Regions from separate parts of the Homo sapiens genome. Here all the other regions are linked to region 1. Evidence: fine-mapped expression QTL. A gene starts in region 1. Each other region holds a variant in brackets. All regions are shown on one strand. Distances are from middle to middle.

Region 1 (4,620 bases):
AGGGTGCCCGGGCCCTCACCAACCCCGTGCCCCTCCTGCCTGTGCCTGCACCTGGGCTGCCCTCCTCCAGCATCCTCCTCCCTCCCCGTGTCTCTTAGGGTTCAGCTCTTGCCCCTGCCCCTGTTCCCTGACCAGCTCTCTGGGGCAGGCTTGGGAGCACTTCTTGCACAGCTCTGGGCCAAGTGGTCACCCTGCAAACCCCCTGGTGGGCAGGTTTCCCCCCTTGGAGGGAAAGGATGCCCCACGAGGGCAGGGCCAGGCCTCTGGCTGCTGAAGGAGCGAATTTCACCAGCGTCAGGGGAGGATGTGGTGAGCGCCCAGCTATCCTGGACCCGCTCTTTGATAAACACAGTCAGATTCACTTGTTCCTTGCCCTAGAAGAAGCTGGTTCCTGAAGCTCCGAAGCTGCTCCACTGGTGAAGTCGAAGGTGTGTGCCCCCAAACCCCCCAACTCGGGGCTCCCAGCCTGGAAGACAGGCAGGGACCTGCCCAGGCTCCCAAAACCTCCAAGTGATTCTGGATGGTGAGAGGGTGGGCAGGACTAGGGGGAGAAGTTTCAGGAGGCTTAAGGGAAATTTTCTGAGAAAGGTCTTCCTATTTATGACTCCCCAGGCCTGTGGCAAGGGGAGGCGAAAAGCTCGAGGGACAGGCCTGAGCCTTAGGACGGGGCCTTGGGCGAGTCCCTGCCTAGCCTTGCTCTTAGGAGCTCAAACCTTTGAGTCTCTCTGGAGACGTATCTTGGCAAGGGATCCCCCATATACCTTGGATATCCCCCAAGGTATCCAAGGGATACCCACAGGAGAGGGAGGTGGACAATGCCTTCTACTGCAGAGCAGCTCGTGTGGTCTCTAGCTTCTGTGTCAAAAGAGGGAGAAAATAAGAGCTCAGGTGTACACGGGCGGGCACAGAAACTCTGGAAGAAACTTAACAGTGGTGCCCTGGGGGGTAGGTGAGAGCTGGATTTAGGAGTGGGACAGATATTTTCCTATATGTGTTTACATATGTATTTGAATCATGTGCATGTTTTCAAAAATTTAAAAATTTAAAAATTTTAATATTGCAACAGCAATAAAGTAGAAATATTCATTTCTTAAAAGAAGGTAGCCAGGGCCGGGAGCGGTGGCTCACATCTGTAATCCTAACACTTTGGGAGGCCGAGGTGGGTGAATCACGAGGTCGGGAGTTCAAGACCAGCCTGACCAACATGGTGAAACCTTGTCTCTACTAAAAATACGAAAAAAGTTAGTCGGGCCTGGTGGCACAAGCCTGTAATCCCAGCTACTCAGGAGGCTGAGGCAGGAGAATCACTTGAACCCGGGAAGTGGAGGTTGCAGTGAGCCAAGATAGTGCCACTGCACTGCAGCCTGGGCAACAGAGCGAGACTCTGTATCAAAAAAAAAAAAAAAAAAAAAAAAAGAAGGTAGCCAGAATGGGAGTAGACAAGGCTCCCTTTGAGAAGGGGCTGAGCAGAGACACTGCTCCCTGCAGGCCACTCAGTGTGGATGCCTTCCTGGGGCCTCACATTGCAGGCTCTGGGTATGGAGGTGGGTGCCAGACACCGGTGTGTTTCCTCCCTGCTACTGTCCCAGCAGGCTCCTGGCCTCCTCCCGCACCCAGGGTGCGGGCCTGGCTGCCCCCCCTTGCCCAGTAGCCAGCCTTTGGCTTAGATTGGGCTGGTGGCCCAGTAGGGGGGCCTCGCTGGGGGCAGGACTGCCCTGTGCCCTGTCTTGGCACCCAGGCCAGCTTGGGGCTCCACGGCCTGGAGCAGGCAGTGGACTTGGCACTGCCCATCGCACAAGCCCAGGTGAGAGCTTAAAAGTTGTCATGGTTCCATCAACCTCTTCACCAGACAGTGGGAAGACCCAGCTCCAGAGGGCCAGGTGGTTCCCCTGCAGTGACTTGCAAGGTGTTATTTACAGAGGGGACCCATGTGTTGGATGAATCATCCAAAAAACCCAGGAGTAGTTTCTATTCCTGTAGACACCTGAAAGTCCCAGCACGCATAGCTTTTAAAAATTGCTTGTGTTTGGTCCTCCGACAGGGCCTCCCAGCACCTCCAGGGCATGAGAGCTGCATCTGCCGGGGTAGTTTCAGCCCAGACTTTCCTGATGGGCTGGAATCTATGAGGGCTCCCAGCTAAGAGCCACCCAGGCCCACGGGTGAGTCTCAGCCCTCCCAGCCCTGAAGGTGGGAGATGCCAGGGAAATCTCTGCTTGCAGGGCCCTAGGAAGCCACAGGCCCAAGGCTGCCCCAAATCTCTGTGCAGGCCTGGGACAGAGAAGCCGAGGCTGGGGAACCTGTGGGGCCCCACTGACCATTCTTGCAGACACACATGCAGTGGCTGAGGTCTCCTCCGACGCTAGGCACGCAAGTCCTAACCTGCAAGTACTAAATAGCACCACCTTCCTTTCCTTTCTGTGGGCAGCAGTTTCAAATCCTAAACCCCCAAAGTGCTGGAAGCCACGACGGCCCTTGGCAGGTGCTGAGAATGGCTGCCCCTGTGTGGTGCCCCTGTTAGGGTGTCTGGGGTGCGTAGGAGGCTTCCTCCTCCAGAGGCTTCCCAGGGCTTGACACATGCAGTGTGATTTTTGGCTTTTTGGTTTTTTGTTTTGTTTTTTGGAGCTGCGGGAGGGGGGCGTGCAGATCTTCCAAGAGGGCGGGAGAGTGTAGACCCTCCTCCTGGAAACTGCTCCCCATGTCCACACTCTAGTTCCACACAGCCTCTCTGTAGACCCCAGAGCAAGAGCCCCTAAGCCAGACAGGGTGACACTGGAGCGGCTCAAAGAGCATCTGGTCCCACCCCTTTATTTCACTCACAAGGAAGTCGAGACCCAGAGAGGGGAAGTGACTCTCCCCAGAACAGGCTGACAGCCAGGCCTGGAGGAGAAATGACATCTCTCAGCCCTCTCAGCTGCACCGGACCACCAACAGGTAACAGCCTCTGGGCCATTTAGAGAAACTAAGGCACGGAGCCTCCAACCTGACCTTGCTCTTGTGGACTGCAGGTAACTCTCCTAAGATCAGTGGGGCTTGTGTGGGCCTGGGCTTTGTGCACACCTGTCCCAACTCAGCGAGCAGTCCCAGGTGTCAGGGCAGCGGCAGCCTCCAGGCAGCCTCCGTGACAGCAGCAGCGGCAGGCAGACCTGGTTTGTCCCCGATTACGAGTGACATTTTTCTACGAACCCTCAACTTCCTCCTGATCTGACTCAGGGTTGCAGCATCATGTCGGGTCGGGAAACCTCCCCATAGGCAGCCTGGGAGCCTTCCCGGGGCATGTAGCTCACGTGCCACCGCCCTCCACCAAGCCCGCCGCCCATTCCCCAGAATCTTGTTGGGAAACCACCAAGCGCCCGAGATGACACACTCTCAGGGATCATCCTGCAGCCCTGAGCAAGTGCTTACTGGGGACCAGAAGGAGCCTGGGAGCCCAGGCTCACCCACTCACCAGCTGCGTAATTTCTCTAGCCTCCGTTTACCTCTCTGGGGCATGAGGCAATACACGGTTTCTTCCTCACGGGGCGCTCAAGGGCAGTAAATGATGGAGAGGAAAGCCCTGGTTGCTATCCTACATTATAGCTGCATTGTTCTCTAACCCTAGCCAAGTGTCTCTTGGAGAGGCTGGGCGGGAAGACACAGCAGCACTTAGAACCCTGAACATTCTAGATTCTTCCCTGAGAGTGAGAACACAAAGTCAGGACATGTCTGGCTGGCCTGGCTTCACCTGGGCTTTGTGCTGCCCGAGGCAGTGGGGATGAGAGGACAGGGCAGGGCAAAGTGCCGCCCACAGCTCTGTGGAAGGCAAGGTTTGCCTTTGGTTCTGAGCGGCTGTCCCAGCTGTAAAGGGAGCACCAGTCACTGTGGAGCTGCAGCAGACCTGGCCATTTGTTCCGTCATTTCTTCACCCCCTCTTTCATGCAATAAGACCTTCCCAACGACAAACTGTATGTGAGGCTCGGTGATAAAGGTGAAAGGGACATGGTCCTGGTCCTGGGGTTGCTGGAGGACAGCAGGGACACGCTCCCCCTGGGATACACAGAGGACTTTTCAAGGCACCCACTCAGGACTGCACTGGGAAAACCACATCAGATGATGTGGGTGAACCTGGGAAGTGGGCATTTCAAGGAAGAGGTGGGATTTTTAGCAGTGGAGGAGAGAGTCCAAGGAGAAAGAGGAGCATGAGCATGCAAAGAAGTGAGGAGGGGGCTTGGCAACTCCTGGATCCCAGATGCTCTTGCTTGTGATGCTGATGGGGGCCAGGGTGAGCGAGGAGGAGAGACTCAGAACATGAGTTCCAGCTGGTCCCTCACGGCCTTTTTGACCTTGGGTAGAATCTTTAACATCTCTAAGCCTTACTGTCCTTATCTGTAAAATGGGCATAATTAGGGCAATCTCCTAGGAGTGTCCTGAGTTCCCATCGTAGATCACTGAGCACACTGCTGGCCACCTTTCACGTCCCCAAGCCGGCCCCTCCCCTCTCCCAGCCCCACTCCAACCCCCCAGCCCAAGCTCCAGCAACATTCAGGCATTGGGGAGATTGTGGTCATGTGCTCTGTCCCCTCTGTGTCCTGTTCCTTCTTCTATCGTGGCCCCCAGAAGCCCAGCTCAGGCACAGGCGGATGA
Region 2 (4,620 bases), 50 kb before region 1:
CTAAATAGAAGTTTTTCTATAGTTCTTCTGTTCTTAGAACAGATCCTTCTCCACAATCAGAGTGTTTGCTCTGTGTGGTTGTGGTATCAGTTTGAGGCGTTATCAGTTTGATTTCCTTCTTTTGCATTCTATTGTAGGGTATTCTTTATCCCACCTTTTTAACATTTAATTTTATTTTTAAAATACGTGAAACATTTATGTAGTTAAAAAGTAAAAATGGGTTGAGAATAGTGGCTCACACCTGTAATCCCAGCACTTTGGGAGGCCGAGGTGGGAGAATTGCTTGAGCCCAGGAGTTTGAGACCAGCCTGGGCAACGTAGGAAGACCTCATTTCTACAAAAATAAATAAATAAATAAATAAATGAATAAATAAATAAATAAATAGCTGGGTACGGTGGCGTGTGCCACTGGGAGGCTGAAGCAGGAGGATTGCTTGAGCCCAGGAGGCTGAGGCTCCAGTGAGCCACTGCACTCCAACCTTGGTGAGAGAGCGAGACCCCGTCTCTGAAAAAATAAAAAAATAAAAAGTGACAATGATATGAGATATACAAGAGAAGCCTCACTGCCGTTCCTATCCCTTCTACCCCATTCCTTCCCACCTCCACGGTGAATGCCTTCCATTAGTGTCTGTTTAATACTGTATTTCTTTTCACAAAAATAACACATACACGTATTCATTTTCTCTTCTTTCCATATGAAAGATGGTATAATATATATCCTCCTTTGCATCTTACCCCGAACCTCATTATCCGTTCACACAGACCTCTCATGCTCACATTCATTCCTTCCCATTTCAGAACATTCTGCTGTCACATGGAACCTGTTCAGGGTTGGTTTTTGTCTAATCTATATTAATGCTAGTTATTTCAGAAGACCATGCAATACCCGTGAAAACTTCCCCTTCGCTCTCAGAAAGTTTGCACAAAAATCAACTCACAAAAGGCAGGTTAATTAGATAAAACACTATGAATTTATTTTAACGTGTCAAGCATGGGGAACTGTAGCAGAGTGATTATTCGATAACCCAGCGGGGTACATATGCTTATATACCCTTCTTCTTAGGGGAAAGGGAGATGGGGCAGTGTGGATGATTTTAGTTTAAGTGATTTTTAGAGAAATTCAATGGGCTTGAAGAACATACAATGGCCTGGGACAAAGTCTGTTGTGCCTGCAGAGTATACAACGGTTTGTGACAAAAGTCTGCCTAGCTGTGTTGATAGATGTCAGTCTTTCTTCCTGGATATGAGTTCAGTTCATGAAAATTTAGGAAGGGACCAGGAGTAATTGTTTTCTTCTTTAGTGAGTCTGGGCTTTAGGCAGATAAGGGAACTTCAGAGAACAACCTCATTCTGTGCTTTGAGAGAGACAGACTGAGACAGAGGCGGGGGTTGGGGGAGGTCAGAGAAATCTTGTGGCTTCTTCTTCAGTTCAGCATGTCACAGAGCCATATTTGGGGGTATTGGTTTCTGAGCCCCAGTCTCCATGATACCGGCTCCTTTTGAACTGGCATGACCTCTGGATTCTGAGAGTGTGAGAAGGCAATAGGGCGAAGGTCCAAATAAGGGTGAAGGACACAATGCAGGCTGTCCCCTCCTGTCTGGCCTCTAGTGTTCTTGTGTCTCTTGGGACGTGCGTGGCTTGAGAGATGGGTTTGCGGAGAGGGGCTTTGCCACTGGAGGATTATGAAGTGTTGCCAGGAGAGAAGTGGTTTCTGTGCCAAACACTTGCCTCACTCAAAGTGTAAACTTTTCAAAAATTAAGGCACAATTTAT[A/G]TAGCATAAAATTTGCCACTTTAACCATTTATTTTTCTTTCTTTCTTTCTTTCTTTCTTTTTTTTTTGAGACAGAGTCTTGCTCTGTCAGGCTGGAGTGCAGTGGCGCAATCTCGGCTCACTGTAACCTTGGCCTCCCGAGTTCAAGCGATTCTCCTGCCTCAACCTCCCGAGTAGCTTGGATTACAGGCATGCATCACCATGCCCAGGTAATTTTTGTATTGTTGGTAGAAGTGGGGTTTCGCCGTTTTGGCCAGGCTGGTCTTGAACTCCTGACCTCAGACGACCCACCTGCCTCGGCCTCCCAGAGTGCTGGGATTTCAGGCAGAGCCACCGCACCCGGCCCACTTTAACCATTTTAAAGTGTACATCCAGTGGCTTCAGTACGTTCACCGTCTCATTCAACCATAACATTTTTATCACCCCCAAAGGAAACCTCATACACATTAAAAAACCACGCCCCATTTCCCCCTCCCCCAGGCCCTGGCAACCACCAACCTACTTTCCGTCTCGAATGGATTTGCCTATCCTGGATATTTCATACATATGAAATCATACAATATGTGTCCTTTTGTGTCTGGCTTCTTTCACTTAGGTTCATCCAAGCTGCAGCATGCGTTGGTAGTGCCTTCTTTTTATGATGAAATATTCCGTTTTATGAATGTACTACAGTCTAGTTTATCCATTTACAGCTTATGGACAGCTGGGCTGTTTTTACATTTTGGTCACTGTTTTAACCTGTGTTTCTATTCTTCTGGGTACATACTAGAAATGGGACTTCTGGGTCATATGGAAACTCCATGTTTAAATTTTTTTTTTTTTTTGAGATAAAGTCTCACTCTGTCACCCAGGCTGGAGTGCAGTGGCATGACCTCAGCTCGCTGCAACCTCTGCCTCCCGGGTTCAAGCGATTCTTCTGCCTCAGCCTCCCGAGTAGCTGGGACTACAGGCATGTGCCACTACGCCAGGCTAATTTTTGTATTTTTAGTAGAGTCGGGGTTTCATAATGTTGGCCAGGCTGGTCTCGAACTCCTGACCTCGTGGTCTGCCCGCCTTGGCCTCCCAAAGTGCTGGGATTACAGGCGTGAGCCACTGCACCTGGCCCCATGTTTAAATTTTTGATGAACCAACAAATTGATTTCCACATCAGCTGCACCGTTTTACATTTTTCACAAGCAAAGTAGGAGGGTTCCGGTTTTCCCACATCCTTGCCAATGGTTATTTTCCATTTAAAAAATTATAGTCATCCTCGTGGGTGTGAGGCGGTCAACTGTTAATACCCTTTTTGACACAAGCTTCGGGTGTCAAAAGATATGCTCTAATGCTGCCCTTTGGCTTCACGAGGCTACTTAAAGCTTCCAATTTCCTGTAAATCATATTAGACTTTGTTATTGTTACATTAACTTGGTGATCCAAGGGACTCATGGCTGTAGGGGGGCAATCCTGTTATATTCTAAGTGCTGTGGTTTGAATGTGTCCCCCAAAGTTCATGTGTTGGAAACTTAATTGCCAGTGCAACAATGTTGAGAAGTGGCACGTTTAAGTGGTGATTAGGTCATGGGAACACAGCTCTCATGAGTGGATTCAGGCCATTATTGGGGTACTGGATTAGCTGTCACAGGAGTGACTTAGATATAAAATCAGGGAATTCTGCCCCTCTTTCCTTCCTCTCGCGTGTGTTCTCTCTCACGACGTGATGCCTTCCGCCATGGGATGGCCCTCACTAGATACCAGCACCACGCTCTTGGACTTCCCAGCTCCAGAACCATGAGCCAAATAAACGTCTGTGCCTTGTAAATTACCCAGTCTGTGGTATTTTGGTATAGCGGCAGGAGATGAACTAAGACACTATGCATGATGTTACCCTGAACATTTGCATGAAAACAGCTCTTTACATCACATAGCCACACTCAGAATGTGTTATGGGAATACAGAAAAACAGAGGTGGGGAGACGACATTAACTGTGGTGAGGGGGTGAAATAATCCTTGGGACCAGTGACCTTTAGGGGTCTTTTAAAGTGACTTGTGTGCTCAAAATAACTGGCCCGGGCCTGCGGAATCCGGGCATCCTGACAAAACCACATGAATGAGGAGAACGGCACTTTTCATGACCGGCCCCACCAGGGGAATTTTTCAGGCACGCATCTTACTCTGATGCTCAGGTCAGCTGGCTACCACTAGTGAGCCCAGGCCCAGAGGCTGGGGCACCCCAGTGAGTCAGAGCCCAGATCAGGGAGGGTGAGAATTACCACTTCCTGTCTATGAAAAACACTTAGATAAATGTCGGTTCCCACCATGGCTAAGAATCAAATAATATTCTTTCTTCGAGCCTCAACCTCAAGTGCCTGACAAACTCTTGAAAAACCCAAGGCACTGCCCAAAGTAGTTTACACGGGGAGGTCCAAGGTGGTTTCCCTATGGCTGGTTGATGATGTTAATTACGGTATTTTTCAGGATTGGCAGTCAAGCAGATGTTATTAACATTAACTAATTAATCCAGGTCTTATCGCATGTCACCTGACGCCAAGTAAAAGCACCAGAGAAGTTTGGAAGTGGAGAAATGCCACAGGGTGGATCAGGAAAGACAGGACAGAGGAGGGGCCATTTGTGTAAGACCTACCTGAAAGGATAGGTGGAAGGGGACAGTGGGAGGGAAGGGGAGGATTGAGGCAGGGAGGTAAAGGTGCCACCCCCACACAAGCATGGAGCAATGCCAAGTGTCCCAACATAGAATGGACTTCTGGATACATCCACTTTATCCCAAAATTATTATGACAATGTGATCAAAAGAGAATATTGTGGCCAAAATGTTAAAGTTTGACATTCCAGAACAGGAATAATTATATC
Region 3 (4,620 bases), 32 kb before region 1:
ATCTGAGTTCAAAGGTCTGTCACTCACTGGACGTCCTTGGGCAAGCTGCTTCTCTGCGCTTCAATTTCCTCATCTGAAAAATGGGCCTGCTATCACCTACCTCATAGGATTGCTGGGAATAACTAAATGATTTTATGTATGTAAAGCAACTTTTTTTTTTTTGAGACAGGGTTTCACTCTGTTGCCCAGGCTGGAGTGCAGTGGCGCAATCACAGCTCACTGCAGCCTTGACCTCCCTGGGCTCAGGTGATCCTCTTGTCTCAGCCTCCTGAGTAGCTGGGACTATAGGCATGCACCACTACACCCAGCTAATTTTTAAATTTTTCTTCTAAAGACAGGGTTTCACCATGTTGCCCAGGCTGGTCTCCAACTCCTGGGCTTAAGTGATCTGCCCACCTTGGCCTCCCAAAGTGCTGGGATTACAGGCGTGAGCTAGGTGCCTGGCCTGTTGGAAGCCCTTAAACCACAACACTGGCAACAAAGTATTCGATAAATGGAGCAGCTGGAGGAGAAAAAGTGTGAGGAGGAGGAAGAAAAGTAGGAACCAAAGCTATGCTGATTTCCATTTTTGGAACTGCTGTGACCTCACACAGCACACTGTACTTCTCATTGTATTTCCAGTGGGAGAGTTCCTGCTGCTTGAAATGTGATTTATGACAGTTATAAACCAAGATTTCAGCTTGTCTTCATGGAAGAATGCCGGCTAATAAAGATAGAAAGAATGATAGAAATAGATTATCACTATTTTGTAAAGACCCTCGTTATAACTGATTCAGAAAATATGGTCAATGGGTGCTAAGGCCATAGGGTGAGAGGTCCTTGGGTATGGGATATTTACACATTACCAAACTACCATTTTGCAGATTATGTGTTAATTACAGTGGAGAGATCTTTTGGACATCACCTTAACTAAATGATCGAAATTAGGTTTATAAAATAAAAGACAAACATTGCATGTTCTCACTTACTTGTAGGATCTAAAAATGGAAACAATCGAACTCATGGAGGTAGACAGTTAGGATGGTTACCAGAGTGTGGGAAGGGGAGTGGTGGTGGTTGCAGGGGTGGGGGCACTGTCAGAGGGAGGTAGGAATGGTTAATGGGTACAACAAATAGAAAGAATGAATAAGACCTACTTTTGATAGCACAACAGGGTGACTATAGTCAATAATAACTGAAATGAACATTTAACAATAACTAAAAGAGTATAATTGGAATGTTTGTAACACAGAGGATAAATGCTTGAGGGGGATGGATACCCCATTCTCCATGATTTTACAATTGCATGTCTGTATCAAAACATCTCATATATCCCATAAATATATACACCTACATTGTACCCATAAACATTTAAAAAAATTTTTTAAAGTTAGGTTTACAAATAATGAGACTAACATTATATGCCTGCTGATGTGATAACAGTAGTACTCTCTTATGTGTGGTTTCACTATCCTGAGTTTTAGCCACAGCCTGAAAATGTTAAATTTAAAACTCCACAAATAATTCAAAAATTTTCTTCCTTTCTTTCTTTATTTATTACAACTTAAACTTTATTTACTTGATTGAGAGCTTATTGTACATAAAATGTTTTATGTGGTTGAGCTTAGCTTTGTTCACACTGACTTCAGGGAGTCTGATTTCTATGCTCAAGATTGTTCAATTGCTGCTGTTGCCCTTGGTTTCTTTTCTTTCAGGATCAAGATGGGTACTTTCACATAATATCTTATTTTTAATTCCTTCTCTGGCAATTCTTTCCTGGATTCTTTGCTTTGCATAATTATACCTACAATGAAACCAGCATCCCAAAGTCACCAAGATAAATCCTCCTACTCCAACATCACATGATTTTCTAATTCTACTAGTTAACAAAAAAAAAGTCCAAAGCCAGCCACAACAGATCCTAATGAACCATACAATATTGAATCCCGGGCACAGGGAATATTTTCAACACCTGAAATGCCTAGGAGCTTAAAGAGCTTCCCCTTCGCGGGCTCGCCGGGCTCCGGAGC[G/A]GCGGCCACGGGGACGACTCCCCGCCTCCACCCGCCCAGCACCGCCGGCGCCGCGGGAGAAGGAAGACCGGCCAGCCGCGCCCCTCCCCGTCCCGCCCAAATTCACAAGTTTTAAATCACGCGCTGTTCTGAGCAGCGCAGTGAAATCTCTCGCTGTCCCGCTCCATCCTGCTCAGGAGGTGAATCATCCCTCTGTCCCGCGTATCCATGCTGGAGACACCACCGGCCGTCAGTGATCGACTGTCATGGTATCGCAGTGCCGGTGTTCAAGGAACCCTTATTTTACTAAATAATGTCCCCAAAGCACAAGCGTAGTGATGCCAGCAATTCGGATATGCCAAAGAGAAGACCTCAAGTGCTTCCTTTAAGCGAAAAGGCAAAAGTTCTCAAGAAACAAAATCATTTGCTGAGATTGCCAAAAATCTATGGTCAGAATAAAATTTCTAATTCTGAAATTGTAAAGAAAGAAAAAGAATGTGTGCTGGTTTTGCTGTTGTACCTCAGACTGCAAAAGTGATGACCACAGTGCGTGATAAGTGCTTAGTTAAGACGAAAAAGGCATTACATTCGTGGGTGGAAGACCTGAACAGAAACTACTTCTGATTGGCGGCAGTCAGGCTTGGTACTCTCTGCAGTTTCAGGCATCCACAGGGGGATCTTAGAACTGAAAAAAAAAAAAAGGTTAATCTGAATTACATCATGAGGCAGTAATTAGGCAAATAGAGATTCCAGAATAGTCCGTTAGGCTCTCCAAGAATGTCAACGTCATGAAAGACGAAAAAAGGTAGGGAGACAGCTCTAGATGAAAAGGTATTAAACAGTCAAATACAACACATGAACCCTGATTAAATGCAAGATAAAGATTTTTTTAAAATACAGATTATGAGATAATATTATTGTATCCATGTTAAATGTTAAATTTCTTCATTGTGATCATGGTATTGGGTTATGTAAGGAATGTTCTTCTTTTAGGAGCTGCAGGTGAAGTATTTAGGGGTGAAGTGAGCATATGTCTGCAACTTACTCCAAACGCTTCAGCAAAAATGTATATATATTTAGTGAAGGGTAATTGGGTGTTTGTTTAACTGATTTTCAACTTTTCTGCAAGTTTGATATTTAAAAAAATTAAAAGATTGCCAGGAGTGGTGGCTCATGCCTATAATCCCAACACTTTGGGAGGCTGGAGGCGGGTGGATCACTTGAGGTCAGGAGTTTGAGACCAGCCTGGCCAACATGGTGAAACTGCCAACTCTACTAAAAATACAAAAAATTAGCTGGGTGTGGTGGTGCATGTCTGTAGTCCCAGGTACTCGGGAGGCTGGGGCAGGAAAATTGCTTGAACCCAGGAGGCAGAGGTCGCAGTGAGCTGAGATTTCACCACTGCACTCCAGCCTGGGCAACAGAGTGAGACTCTATCTCAAATAAATAAATAAATAAATAAATAAAGTAAATAAAATAAATTTGGGAATAAAATCCTGCTTTCAGGTAAATGTTAGAACAAGACCTCCCACTGTCCTAGCTATTGGGATTCTCCTAAGGAGAATTAGGAATCCTCTAGTTTAAAGACACTGGTGTAGTTGGGCATGGTGGCTCATGCCTATAATCTCAGCACTTTGGGAGGCTGAGGAGGGAGGATCACTTGAGGCCAGGAGCTTGAGACCAACCTGGGCAATATAGTGAGACCCTGACTCTACAAAACAATTTAAAATTAGCCAGATGTGGTGGCACACGCCTGTAGTCCCAGCTACTCAGGGGACTGAGGTGGGAGGATTGCTTGAGCCCGGGAGGTCAAGGCTGCAGTGAGCCGTGATCACACCACTGCAGGCACACTCCAGCCTGGGCAATGGAATGAGACCCCGTCTCAAACAAAACAAAACAAAACAAAACAAAAAGACACTGGCATAATCTTTTCTGGCTGTGTTTTCCCATATGAGTCTCCTTTATGGTCTACCATTTAAGTGTAATCCTTCTCTACATTTGAATTGTATTTGATTTGCTTTACAATTCTAAGAAGTTTCCATTGAGCTGATGTTTAATAGGCCCTTGAGTAGTGATACTGCTAATGTGCTACCAGATTTAGTCACTGGAACTGTCTTAACAGGCTGGAGAGAATGTAAGGTGAGAAAAGCCTGTGTCTGTGTTGTGGGAATTCTGTACAGTTATGTTAAGGTGAGCAAGGAATCTGTGTGAAAGCCACTTTCTTTCCTGAGAGCATCTGATGCACTGTCACGTGTGCCCATAACAAGGACTCAGATATGCTGTCACATCAAGGAGACATGGAAAATAGGAAGTCAAGACCTTTCTACTGGGTAAAAATGAGGAGAAATTTCCTTAAGGAAATAACACAAAATAATTAGACAGCTAACAACATTTGTTGTTTGTATTATCTGACAAAATTTCAACAGTGGATTGTGAATTATTCTTTTCTTTGCCACTCAAAGTAGATGGAGATCATAATTTCACAGAAATGGTATATGAGTTGGGATGCTAGCTCTTGGTGACAGATTACTGTCACATAGTAAAGGGATAAACATAGTGGGAGGAATTCAAAAGATGACTCTGTCCCTAACTGTAATTGCATCAAGGGATGACATGTTAGTTTCTTTTCACT
Region 4 (4,620 bases), 39 kb before region 1:
AGAGAAAGAGTGACATTGGTTGAGCAATTTTCTATTGTTTAAAAATCACTGTATTTCTTTTTTTGTGAACCGTCTGTCTGTTCATGTCCTCCTTGCCCCCTTTCTATTGGGTTGTTAGCATTTTCTCACTGATTTGCTTGTATATAAGTGGTGAAAAGTTTTTTTTTTTTCTTTCAGTTTGGCATTTATCTTTTGACTGCTTATGGTGGCTTTACAGAAAGACTTTATTTTTGGCCAGGCACAGTTGCTCATGCCTGTAATCCCAGCACTTTGGGAGGCCGAGGCAGGCAGATCACCTGAGGTCAGGAGTTTGAGAACAGCCTGGCCAACATGGTGAAACCCCGTCTCTACTAAAAATACAAAAATTAGCTGGGCGTGGTGGCATATGCCTGTAATCTCAGCTACTTGGGGGGCTGAGGCAGGAGAATGGCTTGAACCCAAGAGGCAGAGGTTGCAGTGAGCCAAGACACACCATTGCACTCCAGCTTGGGCGACAAGAGGGAGACTCCACCTCAAAAAAGAGAAGAAAAAAAGAAAAAAAAAAGCTCATAGAATAAGGGTACAAAGAAAATATTTTGTGCAGCTCTATATGTTGGTGTTTTATGCTAAGTATTATTATAAAAAAGTCCAAATGTTTTTAAAAATTGAAAAGTTTGTAAAATAAAAAAAGTACAGTAAGCTAAGGTTATGTTATTCTTGAGGAAAGAACAAATTTTTCATAAACGTGGTGTAGCCTAAATGTACAGTGTTTACAAAGTCTACAGCAGTGGTCGGTAATGTCCCAGGCCTTACCGTTCACTCACCAACCACTCACTGACTCACCCAGAGCAACCTCCAGTCCTGCAAGCTCCATTCATGGTAAGCGCCTTACACAGGTGTACCATATTTTTATTTTTCCTACCATATTTTGAACGATATTTTTCTATGTTTAGATACACCATTGTGTTGCGATTGCCTACAGTATTCAGTACAGAAACATGCTGCACAGGCTTGTGGCCTAGGAGCAACAGGCTAACCCATATAGCCCAGGTGTGCAGTAGGCTATGCCATGTAGGCTAACACGTATAGCCCAGGTGTGCAGTAGGCTATGCCATTGTAGGAACCCTACAATGTTCACACAATGAAACTGCCTTACAATGCAGTGTATTAGCTGGGAATTCCAGTATGATATAGAAAGGACTGGTGAGAGAGAACATCCTTGACTTGTTCATGATTTTACGGTAAAACATCTAGTTTTACACCATTAAGTCTAACGTTAAATGTAGGGGTTTTTTGTAGCTGTTCCTCATCAGGTTGAGGGAGTTCTTCTCTATTCCTAGTTTGCTGAAGATTTTGGGTTGTATTTTTATCATGAATGGGTATTGAATTTTGTCAGATGCTTTTTCTCCATTTATTGATGTGATCATATGATTTTTCTTTTTGAGCCTGTTGATGTGATGAATTATGTAAATTGATTTAAGAATGTGAGTCAGATTTGCATACTTGAAATAAATCTCAGTGTTGGACAAATCTGACATTATTGAAAGATTTGTTACCATTTCATTGAGGATTTTTGCATCTTCAATTCTTTTAAACATGTTTATGTTCCATATATGGCACAGAATGTGGTCTATTGTGGTAAATATTTCTGGTAAGCATGAGAAGAATGTGTATTCTACTGTTGTTGGATGAATTTGTTTATAAATGTCTATTATGTCCTGTTGATTGATGCTGCTGTTCAGTTCAGCTATATCCTTATTGGATATGTCAGCTACTGATCTCTTATGTTGAGGTATCCAACTATAAGAATGGATATTTTAATTTGCCTTGCAATTCTACTAGTTTTTGCCTTACATATTTTGACATTGTTAGGTACATATATGTTAAGAATTATTCTATTTTCTTGGGGAATTGATCCCTTTATCACTATGTAATGTTCCTCTTTCTCCCTTATAATTTTCCTTGTTCTGAAGTCTGCTTTATCTGCAATTAATACAGTTGCCCCACCTTTCTTTGATTAGAGTTTGTATGGTAC[G/A]ATGCATCCCATTACTTCTTTCATTTATTTACTTTTTAAAAGTTAGACATTCTTTTTGTGGTGAAATATAAATAACGTAAAAATTACCATCTTAACTATTTTTAAGTGTATAGTTTAGTGGCAGTCATATTGTTGTGCATCCATCACCACCACCCACGATGAGTTCATCTGGGAGACCGATCCATACTAGAGTGCCTCAGAACTCTTTCACCTGGGAAAACTGAAATTCTATAGCCATGAAACAAAAACTAATTATACTTTTCATCTCTGTGAATTTGACTACTCTAGGACATTGGAGAAGTGAAATCATACAGTATTTGTCTTTGTGTGACTGGTGTGATAACAAAACTATCACAAAAGGCTCTGTAAAAACCAAAACCTTGCACAAAAGCCATTGTAACCTTACACAAAAAAATACTTCCGCAAGGAAATCTGCCCAGCAAAGCTAAATGTTCAACCTTGGACAGGCATCACCTTTGTTACTGACTCTTGTAGCCAAGGATAATCATTTCAAAACAATCATATTGAGAGGTGACAGCGTGCTGGCAGCCCTCGCTCGCTCTCGGCGCCTCCTTGGCCTCTGCGCCCACTCTGGCCGCGCTTGAGGAGCCCTTCGGCCTCCCGCTGCACTGTGTGGGAGCCCCTCTTTGGGCTGGCTGAGGCCAGAGCCGGCTCCCTCTGCTTGCGGGGAGGTGTGGAGGGAGAGGCGCGGAAGGAGAGACGCGGGTGGGAACCGGGGCTGCACGGGGTGCTGGCGGACCAGCGCGAGTTCCGGGTGGGTGTGGGCTTGGCAGCCCTGCAGTAGGAGCGGCCGGCCGCCACCACCAGTCCTGGGCAGTGACGAGCTTAGCACCTGGGCCAGTAGCCACAGAGAGTGCGCTGGGTCCCCCAGCAGTGCCGGCCCGCCCACGTTGCACTCGAATTCTCGCGGGTCCTCAGCTGCCTCCCCGCAGGGCAGGACTCAGGACCTGCAGCCTGCCATGCCCGAGCCTCCCCACCTCCGTGGGCTCCTGCTCCGCCCGAGCCTCCGTGGCTCTGGGTCCCATCACCGCCCAAGGTGCTGAGGAGTGCGGGTGCACGGTGGGACTGGCGGGCAACTCCGCCTGTGGCCTTGATGCAGGATCCACTAGGTGAAGCCAGCTGGGCTCCTGGGTTTAGTGGGGACTTGGAGAACCTTTATGTCTAGCTAAGGGATTGTAAATACACCAATCAGCACTCTGTATCTAGCTCAAGGTTTGTAAACACACCAATCAGCACCCTGTGTCTAGCTCAGGGTTTGTAAATGCACCAATCAGCACTCTGTATCTAGCTAATCTAGTGGGGACATTTATGTCCAGCTAAGGGATTGTAAATACACCAATCAGCACTCTGTGTCTAGCTCAAGGTTTGTAAACATACCAATCAGCACCCTGTGTCTAGCTCAAGGTTTGTAAATGCACCAAGCAGTGCTCTATGTCTAGCTAATCTAGTGGGGACTTGGAGAATTTTTCTGTCTAGCTCAGGCATTGTAAATGCACCAATCAGCATGCTGTCAAAACGGACCAATCAGCTCTCTGTAAAACAGACCAATCAGCTCTCTGTAAAATGGACCTATCAGCAGGATGTGGGTGGGGCCAGATAATGGAATAAAAGAAGGCTGCCCAAGCCAGCAGTGGTAATCCGCTGGGGTCTTTGTTTCCACTGTGGTAACTTTGTTCTTTCACTCTTTGCAGTAAATCTTGTTGCTGCTCAGTCATTGGGTCTGCACTGCCTTTATGAGCTGTAACACTCACTGTGAGAGTCTGTAGTTTCACTCCCGAGGCCAGTGAGACCCTGAACCCACCAGAAGGAAGAAACTCCAAACACGTCCGAACATCAGAAGGAAGGAACAAACTCCGGACATGCCTCACTGCAAGGGTCACCGGCTTCATTCTTGAAGTCAGTGAGACCAAGAACCCACCAATTCTGGACACAATATAATCCTCATTCTTCCTCCTTGAATATGCAGTTTACTGTGGCACACACATTCCCACTGCAATGCTCTATTCCTGAATAAATATCTTTTTCTTTTAGAGAGCCTTTCTCTGTTATTTAGGTTGACAGTTTTTAACTGTCTTTTAGTATATCTTTGAAATTTTGGTTGAAAGCTGGACATGATGTATATGATAGTAGGACCTGAAGTAAATCGGCCTTATTGTGTGAGGTTTTATGTTAATCTGACTAGTAGCTGGGCCGTGTTTAATGTTTCCTATAGCTGTAGGTGCCAGAAACTTTAGTTTCCTCTAGTTTCAGGTATTTTTTTTTCTCTTCTGTTTTGACTTTCCCTGAGAACTCTTATTATTTTTTTTGAGATGGAGTTTTGCTCTTGTTGCGCAGGCTGGAGGGCAGTGGCGCCATCTTGGCTCACTGCAACTTCTGCCTCCCAGGGTCAAGCAGTTCTCCTGCTTTTCCTGAGTAGCTGGGATTACAGGTCCCCACCAACATATCCAGCTATTGTATTTTTAGTAGAGACAGGGTTTCACCATGTTGGACAGGCTGGTCTTGAATGCCTGACCTCAAGTGATCACCCACCTCAGCTTCCCAAAGTGCTGGGATTACAGGTGTCAGCCATTGTGCCCAGCCAAGAA
Region 5 (4,620 bases), 23 kb before region 1:
GGAAGGGGCATGGAGCTTCCAGGAACCTCCGTGTGCTCAGCTCTCCGGAAGCTCTCTGAACCCTGTCCTCTTGGGGTTTTTATGGAAGCTTCATGATGTCAGCGTTCCTTCTCTCAGGGCATAGGACAGAACCCTCTCTGGGGAGAGTCTTAAGACCCACAATCAGAAAGGCGGGGGAAGATACGAGTCCTGCCTTGCGGCAGGTGAAAGGAGAGCTGGAGAAGGCCAGAGAGATTCTGTTTCCTGAGGCCTAACACAGCCACTGTCATAACACGAGACTGTAACAGGGACTATGGGGGTTCCGAGCCAGAAACTGTGGACAAAAGCCAACACGTGTGTACTTATCATAACACCACACATGTCACTTCTTGTGAATGATATTAGTAATAATGAAAAACCTATTTCCAGTGTCGCGAATCTCTATTTAGATGTGAGAAAAAATGTTTGACTTATGTGAAGCAGAGAAGGTTTCCTTATCTGTGCAGCTCTCGTTATGAGGTCTGAGGCTGGAGTGCGGGAAAGAAGAGCAAAACGAGAAAAACAAAAAAGAGGGGAAAGAGAAGATGAGAAGAAAATAAAAGTGGCAAGAAGAGATAAAAAGACAAAAAAGCCAATTGCTCTAATTGCTCTGCGTCTTGTCCTGGGTGCCATGCCTGGGAGACAGGCAGGTAGGCGATGGGCTGAACAAGGTCTGTCCAGCACACTCTGCATTCTGCCACATCATGTGCAGGCCAGTGGTTCCCAGACAATGTGGCTTCAGGACCCCTTTACACTCTTAAAAAGTGTTAAGGATCTCAAAAAGCTCTTATCTATGTAGATATCTATCAGTGTTTCCTGTGTTAGAAATTAAAACAAAGAAACTGGCTGGGCGTGATGGCTCACGCCTGTAATCCCAGCACTTGGGGAGGCCGAGAGGGTGGATCACGATGTCAGGCGTTCAGCCTGGCCAGCATGGTGAAACCCCGTCTCTACTAAAAATACAGAAAAATTAGCCAGGCGTGGTGGTGGTTGCCTGTAATCCCAGCTATTTGGGAGGCTGAGGCAGAGAATTGCTTGAACCCGGGAGGCGGAGGTTGTAGTGAGCCGAGATTGTGCCACTGTACTCCAGCCTGGGTGACAGAGCGAGACTCTTGTCTCAAAAAAAAAAAATAAATTTAGTGAGAAGAGAAGCATTATTTTTACATTTCCACAGATCTCTGTGATGCTGGGCTTTATGAAAGATGGTTGGCCTCTCCTATCTCTATTCAGTCTATTGTGGTATCACACAGCATACAGCCTCCAGAAAACTCCACTGTACACTCACTAAAGGAAGACAGTGGAAAAGGAAATACTAACAACATTTCAGTATTATTATGAAAATAGTTTTGACCTTGTGGATCCCCAGAAAGTGTCCCAAGACCACCCTTCCCCACAGAGTGCCTGAGCCACACTTTGAGAAGTGCTGATCTAGGCCGGGGAATTGATGGAATCCACCCCATTCTTCCCAGGAAGGCAATCTTACAATAGCTATCAAGAACTTTAAAAGCAGGATGGGCGCGGTGGCTCACGCCTGTGATCTCAGCACATTGGGAGGCCAACGCGGGCAGATCGCAAGTTCAGGAGTTCGAAACCAGCCTGGTCAACATGGTGAAACCCCGTCTCTACTAAAAATACAAAAATTATCTGGGTGTGGTGGCAGGTGCCTGTAATCCCAGCTACTCGAGAGGCTGAGGCAGGAGAATCGCTTTAACCCGGGAGACAGACGTTGCAGTGAGCTGAGATTGCGCCATTGCACTCCAGCCTGGGTGGAAGAGTGAAACTCCGTCTCAAAGAAAACAAACAAACAAACAAACAAAAAAAGAGCCATAAAAGCATTAGGGCCTGTTGATGTAGTGATTCCTCTTTGGGGACTATATTTTATATTTATTAATTTTATTTTTTGAGACAGGGTCTCAGTCTGTTGCCAAGGCTGGAGTGCGGTGGCACCATCCCAGCTCACTGCAGCCTTGACCCCCCTGGCTCAGATTATCCTCCCACCTCAGCCTCCCGAGGAGTTGGGATTACAGGCGCACGCCACCAAACCGGACTATTTTTTGTAAAGATAGGGTCTCCCAATGTTTCCCAGGCTAGTCTCAAACTCCTGAGCTCAAGCAATCCTCCTGCCCCTGCCTCCCAAAGTGCTGGGATTACAGGCGTGAGCCACCTCGCCCAACCCTCAGGGAATATATTTTAAAACAATAATTCCCAAAGGAAGGAAAAACTTCCTAAATGACCTATAATTGGGGAATGGTTAAATAAATGCTGGCATATACATTTAATAGAATATTATGTGGTTTAAAAGGATAATGATGAAGACTCTGCACTGGCATGGAAGGAATATCTACAGCTCTAAGTGAAAAAATCCGAATTATATAACTGACTCTTCACCATGCCTGCCAATGTCATGCTGGCTCTGCCTGGAAACAAAGCCTCAAAGGCAACGAGAGAAAGTAGGTTCTATTCCATATATAGGGTAGGGACTATGGGAGAATTTTTCCTTCTCTTTTTGGTTTATTTTGATTTATTTATTACTATTATTATTATTTTGCAATTAGTGAAAACAAAAATCAGGACTGTTGAATCTGTCTTGCTTCCCCAGGTCAGTGCGGTTGGGAGGTGTGTGGAGAGCAGCCACCCAGACCCAGAGGTC[A/G]GGAGATGGGGAGGGAGGAAGGAGTGGGGGAGGCTCTGAGTGGGGAAGTCAGGCCTGGAGGGGCTGATAGCTCAGCTGGTTCTAAGTTCCCTTTCAGTGCTGACTGAGAAAGCTCTCCTAAGCAGCTGTTGTCAGAGGCCTGCGGGAGACACAGACCAAGCATAGGGGCTGTGCTTTGCCTCACCAAGGGAGGAAGCTGTGGGGGCGGCCAGGGGGTGGGCGGCGGTGGCAACTGCAGCACCCAAGACCTCTTGGAGAGAACTGAAGTCAGTGGCCACACCCATGTCACAAAGGAGCCGGGCGGGCACTGCAGGCTTCATCCACTGATGGGGAGCTTGACAGACACCAAAGCCACCGTGGCCTGGTGAGGCGGGATGCCGAGTTTCTGCTTAGGTAGGACAGGGCCAGATTTGTATTTTAGGAAGCCTCGCTGTAGCTGGGTGCAGGCTATGTTAGGAGTTGGAGGGGGGGCACCAGCTGAAGTTGAACACAATGGTACTTTAAAAAATAGCACTAAAAGGCTGGATGTGGTGGTCGACACTTGTAATCCCAGCACTCTGGGAGGCTGAGGTGAGAAGATTGCTTGAGCCCAGGAGTTCGAGACCATCCTGGGCAATATAGTAAGACCTAGTCTCTACAAAAGTTAAAAATTAGCCTGGCATGGTGGTGTGCCCCTGTGGTCCCAGCTACGTGGGAGGCTGAGGCACGAGGATTGCTTGAGCCTGGGATGTCGAGGCTGCAGTAAGCTATGATTGGGCTACTGCACTCTAGCCTGAGAGACAGAGTGAGACCCTGTCTCAAAAAAAAAAAAAAAAAAGGTCATAAAGTTGACCAACAGACACTCCCTACTGGAGTGGAGAGTATGGGATGGGCTTTATTCCCCTGAGCTAAAAATGTAACCAGGGTCCCAATTATACCTTGCAACTTAGATGCAATCTTCTAGGATTGCAAATGTGCTCTTTCATCGTGCTCTTGCCCTTTGCATTGGAGCCCAGTTGGCTGGTGCACGTCCAAGGTGCAGCTGGCAGGCTCCAGCTTTGCTGCTGCAGCACACCTAACCAACTTCAGTAAGATCGCCCCATAACCAACAAAACTCTGGTGGTGCTGACCAAGGGGAGACTGATACACAAACTGGGTTGTTGGCAGCCAGGCAGGTTCCCACACCCATAGTGGAAAGGAGCGATTTGTCAGCTAATGGCTCTTTCTGGCTTGGGCATGATGAAGGAATGGAAGGCGTGGGTCTGTGGTGTGGCCAATGTGACAGGGCCGTCAGAAAGTTGAATACACTGAAGTCAAACATAGGAAATGAGCAATAGGGTTAGTTCAGCATGAACCTATGCCAATTCTTATTTACTTTTTGGGGTTCACTAAAATATGATGTGATTAAGATGTTCTGCTCTCTAGTTTGGTGTGTGTCTCAAAGAACCTCAGTGGAGTCCTAAAGAACCACATGAGCACCCCCAGCCACAGCTGCCTTGCCCTGGCCCCTGCCCCAGTTAGGCCCTGGAGGTCCCTAAAAGGTCTGATGGGCTGGGCCTGCTTTCTTCCAGCTCTGCCAGAGTGGAAACTTGGCCCCAGCTATGGCCTGGTCCAGGTGTGGGCTGCAGTGGGAACTTGTCCCATGCTACTGGGACACCCTGCTTCCACAACCATCAGCTTCTGCCAGCGTCATTTCACTGATCTCTAGTTCATTGATCTCTACCCTCCACCACTTACACTGACCTCGTGGCATCTTGGCCTAATACTACAGGGTGCATCTCTTCTGATGAGGACACTTTTTTCTCCACACTCTCCGGTCCTCAGCTTTGTTAAGGTACACGTGACAAAAATTGGATATGTGAATGATGAACAGTGTGAAATTTTGATATATGTATACACTGGGAAATGATTAAATCAAGCTAATGAACACATCCATCGATCACACAGTTATCTTTTTTGTGTGTGTGTGGTGA

Which allele goes with the higher level. Alleles are on the strand shown, and positions count from the first base shown. SD is a standard deviation of normalised expression in the study named. Not every link is listed here.
For the expression in testis of the gene that starts at base 2,857 in region 1, allele A in region 4 goes with a lower level than allele G (small effect, 0.29 SD a copy in GTEx).

What was found. PIP is the estimated chance that this variant, and not a neighbour inherited with it, causes the effect. A credible set is the group of variants that fine-mapping cannot tell apart.
Region 2: its variant is the best candidate, but not a certain one, in a credible set for the expression of GPR55 in whole blood (INTERVAL, PIP 0.84).
Region 3: its variant is the best candidate, but not a certain one, in a credible set for the expression of GPR55 in whole blood (TOPMed, PIP 0.58).
Region 4: its variant is the best candidate, but not a certain one, in a credible set for the expression of GPR55 in testis (GTEx, PIP 0.62).
Region 5: its variant is the best candidate, but not a certain one, in a credible set for the expression of GPR55 in whole blood (TOPMed, PIP 0.70).

Annotation. Positions count from the first base shown.
Region 1 is chr2:230,923,479-230,928,098 of GRCh38, reverse strand. It overlaps GPR55 (G protein-coupled receptor 55), which reads left to right and starts at 2,857. Exons shown (of 2, transcript NM_005683.4): 1 at 2,857-2,931. RefSeq lists a silencer at 1,421-1,600 and enhancers at 1,821-2,050, 2,871-2,920, 3,041-3,160, 2,724-3,512.
Region 2 is chr2:230,973,741-230,978,360 of GRCh38, reverse strand. No RefSeq gene overlaps it. Among named protein-coding and RNA genes, the nearest start is that of SPATA3-AS1, 20 kb to the left of the region's middle. RefSeq lists enhancers at 1,243-1,292, 2,397-2,516, 3,931-4,070, 4,191-4,240. The variant A/G (reference allele first, on the strand shown) is at 1,774.
Region 3 is chr2:230,954,991-230,959,610 of GRCh38, reverse strand. It overlaps a transcript of GPR55 not described here and the pseudogene COX20P2. Among named protein-coding and RNA genes, the nearest start is that of GPR55, 32 kb to the right of the region's middle. RefSeq lists a silencer at 1,944-2,043. The variant G/A (reference allele first, on the strand shown) is at 2,010.
Region 4 is chr2:230,962,727-230,967,346 of GRCh38, reverse strand. No RefSeq gene overlaps it. Among named protein-coding and RNA genes, the nearest start is that of SPATA3-AS1, 31 kb to the left of the region's middle. The variant G/A (reference allele first, on the strand shown) is at 2,015.
Region 5 is chr2:230,946,369-230,950,988 of GRCh38, reverse strand. It overlaps a transcript of GPR55 not described here. Among named protein-coding and RNA genes, the nearest start is that of GPR55, 23 kb to the right of the region's middle. RefSeq lists enhancers at 171-230, 361-410, 601-670, 881-930, 4,228-4,387. The variant A/G (reference allele first, on the strand shown) is at 2,669.